2 linked regions of the Homo sapiens genome follow. The protein of the gene in region 1 interacts with the protein of each later gene in a pairwise test. Each region holds a gene or a part of one and is shown on either strand. Other genes may lie near its edges.

The links. Proteins that work in one complex are often made in the same cells at the same time.
Region 2: the proteins of ATXN7L1 (region 1) and SP4 interact in a two-hybrid assay, tested with the Homo sapiens proteins (one large-scale study listed by BioGRID).

Annotation. Positions count from the first base shown.
Region 1 is NC_000007.14:105,638,029-105,643,182, reverse strand, and holds part of ATXN7L1 (ataxin-7-like protein 1), read left to right. Parts: intron 1-61; coding exon 62-345; intron 346-3,613; coding exon 3,614-3,696; intron 3,697-4,573; coding exon 4,574-4,830; intron 4,831-5,154.
Region 2 is NC_000007.14:21,475,768-21,480,921, reverse strand, and holds part of SP4 (transcription factor Sp4), read right to left. Parts: intron 3,844-5,154; coding exon 3,615-3,843; intron 1-3,614. UniProt on the Homo sapiens protein: Binds to GT and GC boxes promoters elements. Probable transcriptional activator.

The sequences.
Region 1 (5,154 bases):
CCTCAGCAGACTAGATGTATCAAAGAAGACAATTGTGTGTGTTTGTTCATTTATTTTTCAGTGTTCCAGTTCCTGTAGTCAGTTTAGAGAAAATTCCTAACCTAGTGAAGGCAGATGGTGCCAATGTCAAAATGAACTCCACAACCACTACTGCAGTTTCTGCCTCCTCCACCTCGTCCTCTGCCGTCTCCACCCCTCCTTTAATTAAGCCTGTCCTGATGTCCAAGTCAGTGCCACCTTCACCAGAGAAGATCTTAAATGGCAAAGGAATTCTGCCAACCACCATAGACAAGAAACACCAAAATGGCACCAAAAACAGCAACAAGCCTTACAGGAGACTTTCAGGTATGTGTCAGTGTCGTCAGGGTCTGACTCATGATTAGACTGAAAGGGAGTCGCAGCCATAACGAAGGAGTGATGTGCTGTTATCATTAAGCAGGTCTGTTTCATTTTAAGGGGGATGCAGAGTTTACCTGCAAACAGGAACCCCACCTAAAAATGCAAGGGAAAACCAGGTCTCTTCTTCCCCGGGCAGATGAAGTCCCTCACTCAGTTCAGTGCTTAGCGGGAGTTACCCTAGCAACCCAGGAGGCAGGGTGCTCTGCACCGACCTACTCTGTAGATTCCGAGGGTCTTGTGAGCAGGTGATTCTGTGTATCTGTATCATACAAACAGGTTGAACTAGCCCTGGCTTCCATAGAAGCTTCACTGCTGGGAAGCTGGACAACACACAGGGATCTCATGGTGCCTCAAGGCATGTGAGGGACAGCCCCGCCAACAGCTGTGCTGCACAGGGACACACAGCCTCTGTCCTTTGGCCTCGGGAGTTTCCAGGTTAATTCTGCAGTTGAGTTTACAACTGTCGATCCCCCATAATCAGGTTGGAATTCCCAAACAGGAACAGTAGGGCTGGCAGTGCCGATAGGGTGCTGGGGCGGTCTCTTGTGGGTCTACTCCTTGGTTGTCTGAGCAGACACTTGGGGTGCCAGAAGAGGCACACAGGATGATGGTTATTTGTTAGAGGCCCCTATGTGGGTAATGTTTGCTTTGGATCGATCTGCTGTAGAACTAAACGTGGCAGTTTTTACTTTCTCCAAAAGACCAGGAGAAGCTATAAACTTCATAACTTCTTCTTACATCATGGGCACTCCCTGATGGTGGCCAGAGAAAGTAAAATACAGTGACAGCCACCCTGTGACAGAGAAACTGTCCTCGGGTTAAGCTTGATTTTTAAGCACCCAAGGAATTGTGGGTAATTTTTATTGTCTACTCTGTATTTGTCTGTAGTTCTAGTTTCTCTATCTTTCATCTGTAACTCTTTTTAAAATTATGTCTGAAAAATCCCTCAAGCCCAAAGCATTCGGATAAAGCAGGCATTGTACCTTGCACATCTCTGCCTGCGCTGCTCACCCACTGTCAAGAAAGAAAGGTAGAGCCTGGTGCTCTCCCTAAGCACTGTGGGCCTCACAGTTCGGGCGGGAGCCCCCAGCACCTGGCTCTTCCTGCATGGAAAGCTTGGTTTCACTCTTCAGAGGTGGTGGCAACATCCCCAGAAAACCGGTAGGCGTGGGCACAGTGGCTGGAGGCCGAGGGCTCCTCGCCATAGCAGAAGCACGGCCGTGGCTTCCAGCCTGTAACCCCATCTGAAGTTGTCTGGGGATTTTTTTGCCGCACATTGTTTTTGCATTTTGTGGGTTGTCTTGTTTCGTCGGGTCTTTTGCTTGTTTCTGCCTCACTTTCACATTTGGCAGCCAGCTCCTACCCTCAGCCAACAGCCTGCTCAGCTCCAGGTCGACATGAGGCGCTGGTGTGGGACCAGGCACAGGCCTGACTCTGACAGACCCAAAAAAAAAACACCACACCAGGCAGCCTGGCCAGAGAGGGCTCCGAGCAAACCAGCATCTCCAGGCCTAGCAGGTTTTTTTTCTAAGTGAAGCTAAAAAAAAAAAAAAAAAAAAAAAAAAAAAAGAGAGAGAGAGAGAGAGAGAAAAGGCAGACAAAAAGCAAAAAAAGGGGGGAGGCATTTTGGTAACCAGCCAGGGAATCTGTCTTGGGTATAGAGTAGTTTTCTTGTGCATATCATCAGTAACACCATTGCAACCTCCCCATGACCCTCAAAGCTTTTGAAAATAGAATACATTCATTTATTATGGTATAATCTGAGCATTGTTATATGCTCGGAGTTTACTCCACCAATTTCAGACAGTTTTCCAGCTAGGAACCTTTTTTGAGTTTGCAGCCATTCAAGGGTCTTAAGGAGATACCACCAATTTCTGTACACCCTCTACCACCAGCAACACTGCTGCCAGTCTACCCACATGCCCAGAGGGCTGTGTCATTCCTGCTCTGCAGGACTTATGTGTTTGCTCGGTGCCTTCCAGAAACGGCACAGGCCATCCAAGAGGTGGAATTTTAAAGCCCAAAAGATCCTTAAGAGATCACCTACCCTGGGCAATATAGTGAGACCCTGTATCTACAAAAAATAACAAAATCAGGCAGGTGTGGTGGTGCATGCCTCTAGTTCCAGCTACTCAGGAGGTTGAGGCTTGAGCCCAGGAGGTCGAGGCTGCAGTGAGCCTTGTGATCCCACCACTGCACTTCAGCCTGGGTAACGGAGCGAGACCCTGTCTCAAAAAATAAAAATGAAAAAAAGAGATCACCTCACATCCCCTCATTTTTAAGGTGAGGACAGCATGATTGTCTTCCTGGCAGGGGTGAAGGACCCAAGATGGGTATAGAAAGAGCAGGCTCCTTAGAAGTAACCTCCGCACAAGCTGTCCACAGTCAACTGGAAGGCAGGAGCTGGGGAAGCCTGGCCTCTCCGCACAGACATCCTTCATCCTGGTGGGGCAGCCTGCCCCGTTTTATTCCCACGTGAAGCATCAGACCCAGGGCAGTGGGGGCGGGGAGCAGCTGTGAGATTAGCAGGCCCCTGCCCTCTCTGCACCTTCAAGTTCAGCCTTCTCCCCTGCCCCTGCCTGTAACACTGCTAGAGTGCCCCTCAATCAGGTAAATGGTGTTTGTGGTCAGCAAGGCTGTGTGCAAAGCCTGCGCCGAGAGCTTTGTCAAGCATGAGAGAGGCAGGTCACTCTGACATGTCAAGGAGTAATCTCCCATTTACATGGCTAAAACTAGCAGGAAGGCAGGAGCTGGAGTCAGGGTGTCTGTACTCTTGGAGCAGCCCAGGAAAGGGGTCGTTGGGTCTCAGGTGGCTCTCCCTGGTCTGCAGCCAGCTATGCCCAAATGCCAAGGACCTGTGGAACCATTGCAAGTAAAATAAAGCGTTAAGAGCATTAAGAGCAGCACGGCTCCTCTCCTTCCCTTCGGTGCCTGCTCCCGCCCTATTCCCCGAGCCTTGTGCTGCGTTCGGCGGTGCTGCCGAAGCTAGACTTGGGAACTCTGGGTTCAGAGGGGAGCACCATTTTCCCCGAGCGGTTCTGGAAGACTTTTAGCAGCTGGTTGAGAAAACAAAACACAAAAAAACAAAAAACAGATTGCCTGACAATGTCTCACTTGTTGGTGCAAATGTGCATTTTTTAAAAAATGTAGTCTTAATGCCAAATCCTATTTAGTCTCCTTTTTTCTTATATTTTTTGTTTGTTTCTTAAACCAGAGAGAGAATTTGACCCAAATAAACACTGTGGAGTATTGGATCCCGAGACAAAGAAACCTTGCACAAGATCCCTCACCTGCAAGGTATTTCTCTTTCCATAAAAAATACTTCCTGCTCTCGCTGGGGCCTTTGTCGAAATGTTTGCATGCCACTCTCTGCACACGGCAGGGTGTGGAACCTCGACATGACCCCCAGCTGTTCTTTGTAAGGGAAATGCTTTCTTCTCGTCCATGGTAGCAGAGTGCCTGCCTCAAGCTGGCTGGCTTTTTAAGAAGGAGAAAAAAAAAAAAAAAAAAACTAGGCTTCCCCTGTTACTTGTGAGGCCAGACAGTAAATTGTATTTATAGGCACTCACAGGCGGTTCTAAAGCCTGCTACGTTTTAATGTATGCAGGAGCAGCGGCAGCGGCGGCGGCGGCGGCGGCAGCGCCCTGAAAGGCAGCCCTGGAGGGGAGGATGATATGCCGCGCCCCTGATCCAGCCACACCGGGGTGGCCAGGGGAACAGCTGACCCAAGGCGGCCGCCATTGGGTCGCCCAAAGCCCTGTATTTCATGCTGAACTGCTAGTGCTTCTTGGGATCAAGGCGATGGCCCTCTCTGCTTGGTGGCTCTGTTTGTCTGGGCCGAATCGAGCCTCCCACCTGCACCTGGATTAACTCTAGCATTCCCTCGCAGTTGCCTTTCATCAGAGAGGTTTTCATGGGTTCTGCGCTGAAGCTCGTCATCCTATGCCATTTTTTGGAGGAAGCTTTGGCTTCTTAACACCAGGAGTGTAGGGCATGGTTGCGTTCGTGTGGTCTCTGCCTCTTCCTAGCCACAGAACAGGAGCTGTTGCCTTGAAGTTGACTTTTCAAGCACCTCTAAATTTCCATGAATTGCTATTTCTGAAATGGAGGGCCTGGGGAAGCAGGTTTATGTGCTGATCAAAGAGGCTGTGCTTTTCATTTCTCTTCTCCTTAGACACATTCGCTAAGCCATCGGAGGGCAGTCCCAGGCCGGAAAAAGCAATTTGACCTCCTCCTGGCAGAACACAAAGCAAAGTCCCGGGAAAAAGAAGTTAAAGATAAAGAGCATCTCCTGACTTCCACGAGGGAAATACTTCCAAGCCAATCCGGGCCGGCACAGGATTCTCTGCTAGGGTCTTCAGGGAGCTCTGGGCCAGAACCAAAAGTTGCATCCCCTGCAAAATCCAGACCACCCAACTCTGTACTTCCTAGGTAAGTACCACCTTGACGATAGAAGCCCTGAATGCTTGGTCAAGTGACTAGCTTGCTGGGTCTGTGGCATGTGGTCTGATTATATGTTAAATGGAAATCATAATAGTACTACTTCCTAAGGCAAGTAGTAAAGTTTAAATGAGATAATGTACATAAGAGGCCCAGCCCAGTGCTTGCCACATAGTGTTCAACAGATTTTACTGCTGTCATCATTATTATCATCACTGTCATCATCATTGTCAGCAGCAGCGGACTTCATGGCAGACAAGCAGATCTTATATCAGACAGTGTGTGTTTTTACACAGCAAGAGTAAGCTGGAAATA
Region 2 (5,154 bases), about 84 Mb from region 1:
CCATAAAACAAAGAGCTCCAAATCTCTTCCCAAAGGAATTGACTTCATTTGCAAGACAATGTGAAGAAGTTCAAGCCTAAGGGTACTCTCAAAAAAAGTAGAGATGGTTTCAAAAGGCAGTTAATTGGGAGAAGACTAAGAGATTCACTGGAAATAAAGGCTTAACTACAGGTTGGCTAGTTTGCCAGAAAGAAGTGAGCAAAGAGGCTGTGAAGAACCTTCTTAGGGTCAGAAAAAATGTCAAATATTGAGATTCTTGGGAAAAGTAAACAAAACTAACAAACTTTTAGCTAGACTGACCAAGAAAGTAGGACTCAAATTATTAGAATCAGAAATCAAAGAGGAGATATCACTACCAACCTTATAGAAACAAAAAGGATTACAAAGGAATACCATGAACAATTCTACGGCAATTACTTGGGTAACTCAGAGGAGATGGACAAATTCCTAGAAAAATACGGACCAAAATACTAAAACTGACTCAAGAACAAATAATCAATCAGAATACACCTACAACAAGCAACTAGACTGAATTCGTAATTAAAACTACCCATAAGAAAAGCCCAAGAACAGACAGCTTCACTGGTAAATTCCACAAAACATTTAAAGAATTAATACCAGTTTGGAGGGAATACTTTCCAATTCATTCTATGAAGCCAGTATTATCATTACCAAAATCAGATAAAAACAATACAAAAAGAAAACCACAGACATCTCTCTTATGAATATGGATGCAAAAATCCTCAACAAAATACAAGCACACTGTCAACATTGTACCAGAGGTTCCAGACAGAGAAACTAAGCAAGAAAAAGAAACAGAACTCCTGCAGAGTAGAAAGGAAAAAGTAAAAACTATCTCTGTTCACAGATTCCATGACCTTATACACAGAAATCCTAAAGACTCTACTAAACAAACAAACAAACAAACAAACAAAAAAACTGTTATAACTAATCAAAAAGTTCAGCAAAAGTTGCAGGATAAAAGATTAATACATTAAAAAATGTATTTCTACATACTTGAACAATCAAGAAAACAGTTCAACTTATAATAGCATCAGAAATAAAATTGGAATTTAACAAAAGTACAAAATGTATACTCTGAAAACTATAAAACATTGATGAAAGAAGTTAAAGATTAAACAACCAGAAATACTTCCCATGTGCATAGACCAAAAGATGTAATATTGTTAAGCTGGCAACCGTCCCCAAAGTGATCTACAGATTCAATGCAATTTCCATCAGAATACCATCTGGTTTCTTTATAGAAACTGACAAACTGATTCTAAAATTCACATGGAATTGCAAGTGTCCCGAAAGAGTCAGTACAATTTTGAAGAATAACAAAGCTGCAGGACTCACATTTCTCGATTTCAAAAGTTATTACAAATCCAAAGTACTCAAGATAGTGTGGTACTGACATAAAGATAGTCATATAGATCAATGGAATACAACTGAAAGTCCAGAAATAAATCCATGTTCTATGGTCAACTAATTTTTGACATGGGTGCCAAGAACATTCAACGGAGAAAGGACAGTCTTTTCAACAACTGGTGCTTGATGAACCCTTACCTAACACCATACGTAAAAATTAACCCCAAATTAATCACAGACCTAAATGTAAGAGTAAAAACTATAAAATTATCTTAAAAAAAAAAAACAACTAGGAATCTTAATGACTTCGGATTTGGCAATGAATTCTTAGATACAATACCAAAAGCAGAAGCAATAAAGGAAAATAGAAAACTCTAGACTTCAAAATTAAAACTTTGGTGCAAAGGCACTATCAAGAAAGTATACAGACAATTCACACAATGGGAGACAATATTTTTCTTTTTTCTTTCTTTTTTTTTTTTTGAGATGGAGTTTCGCTCTTTCACCCAGGCTGGAGTGCAGTGGCGCGATCTCGGCTCACTGCAACCTCCGCCTCCTGGGTTCAAGCAATTCTCCTCCCTCAGCCTCCCGAGTTGCTGGGATTACAAGCATGCGCTACCATGCTTGGCTAATTTTGTATTTTCAGTGAGACAAGGTTTCTCCATGCCGGTCAGGCTGGTCTTGAACTCCTGACCTCAGGTGATCCACCTGCCTTGGCCTCCCGAAGTGCTGGGATTACAGGCGTGAGCCACTGCGCCCAGCCAGGAGACAATATTTTCAAATTGTATATCTGATAAGGAATTTGTATGTAGAATATATAAAGAGACAATTCCATAATGAAAAATAAATAATATAATTTAAAATGGGCAAAAGATCCAAATAAACATTTCTCCAAAGATACAAACATGGCCAATAAGAACAAGAAAAGATGCTCAATATCATTAGTATCAGTAAAAACAAAACTGCAGTGACATATGACTTCACTAGGATAGCTTTAATCATAAAGTCAGATAATGACAAGTACTGGCAATGATCTAGAGAGACTGGAACCTTCATACCCTATTGATGGAAATGTTAAATGGTACAGCCACTTTGGAAAACAGTCGGTAAGTTCCTCAAATGGTTAAACATAGAATTACAATATGACCCAAAAATCCATTTCTAGGTAATTTCATATAAATACAAGAGAAATGAAAACATATGCCCACACAAACAGTTCTACACAAATGTTTACTGCAGTATTATTCATAACGGCCAGTGGGTGGATAAAACCAAATGTCCTTCAATTGACAGGATAAACAAAAATATTGTATATCCATAGAGTGGAATATTATTTGTCCCTAAAAAGGAATGAAGTATTGATCATACTGTAATATGGTTGAACCTTGAAAACATTATGCTAAAAGAAACCAGTCACAAAAGACCATGATTCCATTTATATGAATTGTCCAGAAAAGGCAAATCTATAAAGACAGAAATTAGTTGTCTAGGATGGAAGGATTGGGATAAGGGGGTGATGCTTAAAAAAGATACAGAATTTATTCTGGGGATGATGAAAACACTCTAAAATTGATTGTAGTCATGTCTACACAGCTCTGAATATATTAAAAACCACTGAATTGTACACTTTAAATTCGTGAACTGTATGGTGTACGAATGAGTTTTATATCAATAAAGTTACGTAAATATTTTATGAAAAAGAAAAAAAATGGGCTGGGCGAGGGGGCTCACACCTGTAATCCCAGCACTTGGGGGGCTGAGGTGGGTGGATCACCTGAGGTCAGGAGTTCGAGACCAGCCTGGCCCACATGGTGAAACCCCGCCTCTACTAAAAATACAAAAACTAGCCGGGTGTGGTGGCGGGCACCTGTACTTAATCCCAGCTACTCGGAAGGCTGAGGCAGGAGAATCGCTTGAACCCGGGAGGCAGAGATTGCAGTGAGCTGAGATTGCACCACTGCACTCCAGCCTAGGCAGCAGAGTGACACTCCATCTTGTTGGGGTGGGGGAGGGGTGGGGAAGAAAGAAAAAATATTTTTTAAAAGTGTAAGGAACAAGGCGGAGGACCGCTCAAATTTCATTCCTAAAATAGCCCAACTTAATTCCCTTTCTAATATTATATATCAACTTCTAGGCTACAAAGGTAATGAAGTTCTAGTGACCATCATTCCCAGCCAATTACTTGGTTTTAACTGCTGTTTTATGCCTTCCAAATAGACACAGTTGAAAAATACAGCATTTACCTTCCTTCTCCTTCCCTACAATTAGGACAGGAACAGGCAACTCTTCGAAGCCTCTTGCCAGGTTGTACCTCTTGATCAGAAGTCTGCTGGCCTTGCTGCAAATGCACTTGTGTGAGTTGGTCAGGACTAACAGCACCTATCGTGGCATTAGCAATTCCTCCAACTGCTACAGTTACAGGAGCTATAGTAGCTTGCTGGACTTTTACTCCATCTTGTCCTTGCTGCTGACCTAAAAAGGAAGAAAAAAAAGAAGTATTGTAATGTTTTCTACACCTAAAGAAAGGATTAAAAAAAAAAATCTATGTGCATAATAAATTTTTTCTAACAATCTGTGTAAAGTACAAAAACTAAGGGGTTAATGGCTTATACTATGTCAATCCTTCTAAAATATAGTATTCTTACTTTAGTGGCTCAGGTTGCCTATGTATCTAGATAACGGAACTATATACATACATCATTTAACTCACTTTGTGGCTTAATTTCTCTCTCCATCTGTAAAATGAAGATAATACTTGCCACTTACCTACTCACTAAAATACTATGAGGATACATGAGATAGTCTAAAAGCATTTTGAGATCCTAAAAGATGTTATATAAACACAAAGCTTTATTACCATTTCCACGGTAAGCAACATATCTTATCATAACAAGAAAATACAGGAGTGAAAAGTCACTAAACAAAGGATTAAGTTTTATGGACATCTTGCATTCCTAAATAGTTTAAATAAACATCTCTTTATTGATTCGACTTTTTTTAGTGTATACATAAAGTGGTTTTTGAAATGCAAAACCACCCAAGATTACTACATACTGTCACTGTAATCATAAAAAGACATTTAAGATATTATTACTTTATTCATTCATGTTATATAGCTTAGACTTCATCACTCAGATTAGTATATATACCAGCTTGGCTTCTTCACTTTGGGAAAAATATAATAAATAATGCACAATAAAACAACAATAAAAAAATCTATTGGCATGGCTTAACATTATCCTGAAATACAATGCTTTTTTTTTTTTTTTTTTTTTTTGAGATGGAGTCTTGCTCTGTCGCCCAGGCTGGAGTGCAGTAGCACGATCTCGGCTCACTGCAACCTCCACCTCCTGGGTTCAAGCAATTCTTCTTCTTCAGCCTCCCTAGTAGCTGGGATGACAGGCGTGTGCCACCATGCCCAGCTAATTTTTTTTGTATTTTTAGTAGAGACAGGGTTTTGCCATGTTTGCCAGGCTGGTCTCAAACTCCTGACCTCAGGTGATTCACCTGCTTTGGCCTCCCAAAGTGCTGGAATTACAGGTGTGAGCCACCGTGCCCGGCCTACAATGCCTTATAATTATCTTTTCTTTCACACAGTTCTACATTCTCTCCATCAGGTGTGGGAATAACAAGTATGTGAATGGACTGAAAAGAAAATACCAATTTATGAAAGAATGTTTCTACCTCAGAAAGTTGATGTAAGTATTAAGTAAATTTACAAATCCTCTACCAGAGTGCTGGCACGGAATTGCTCATTACATGGTAGCTACTGTTACCAATTCA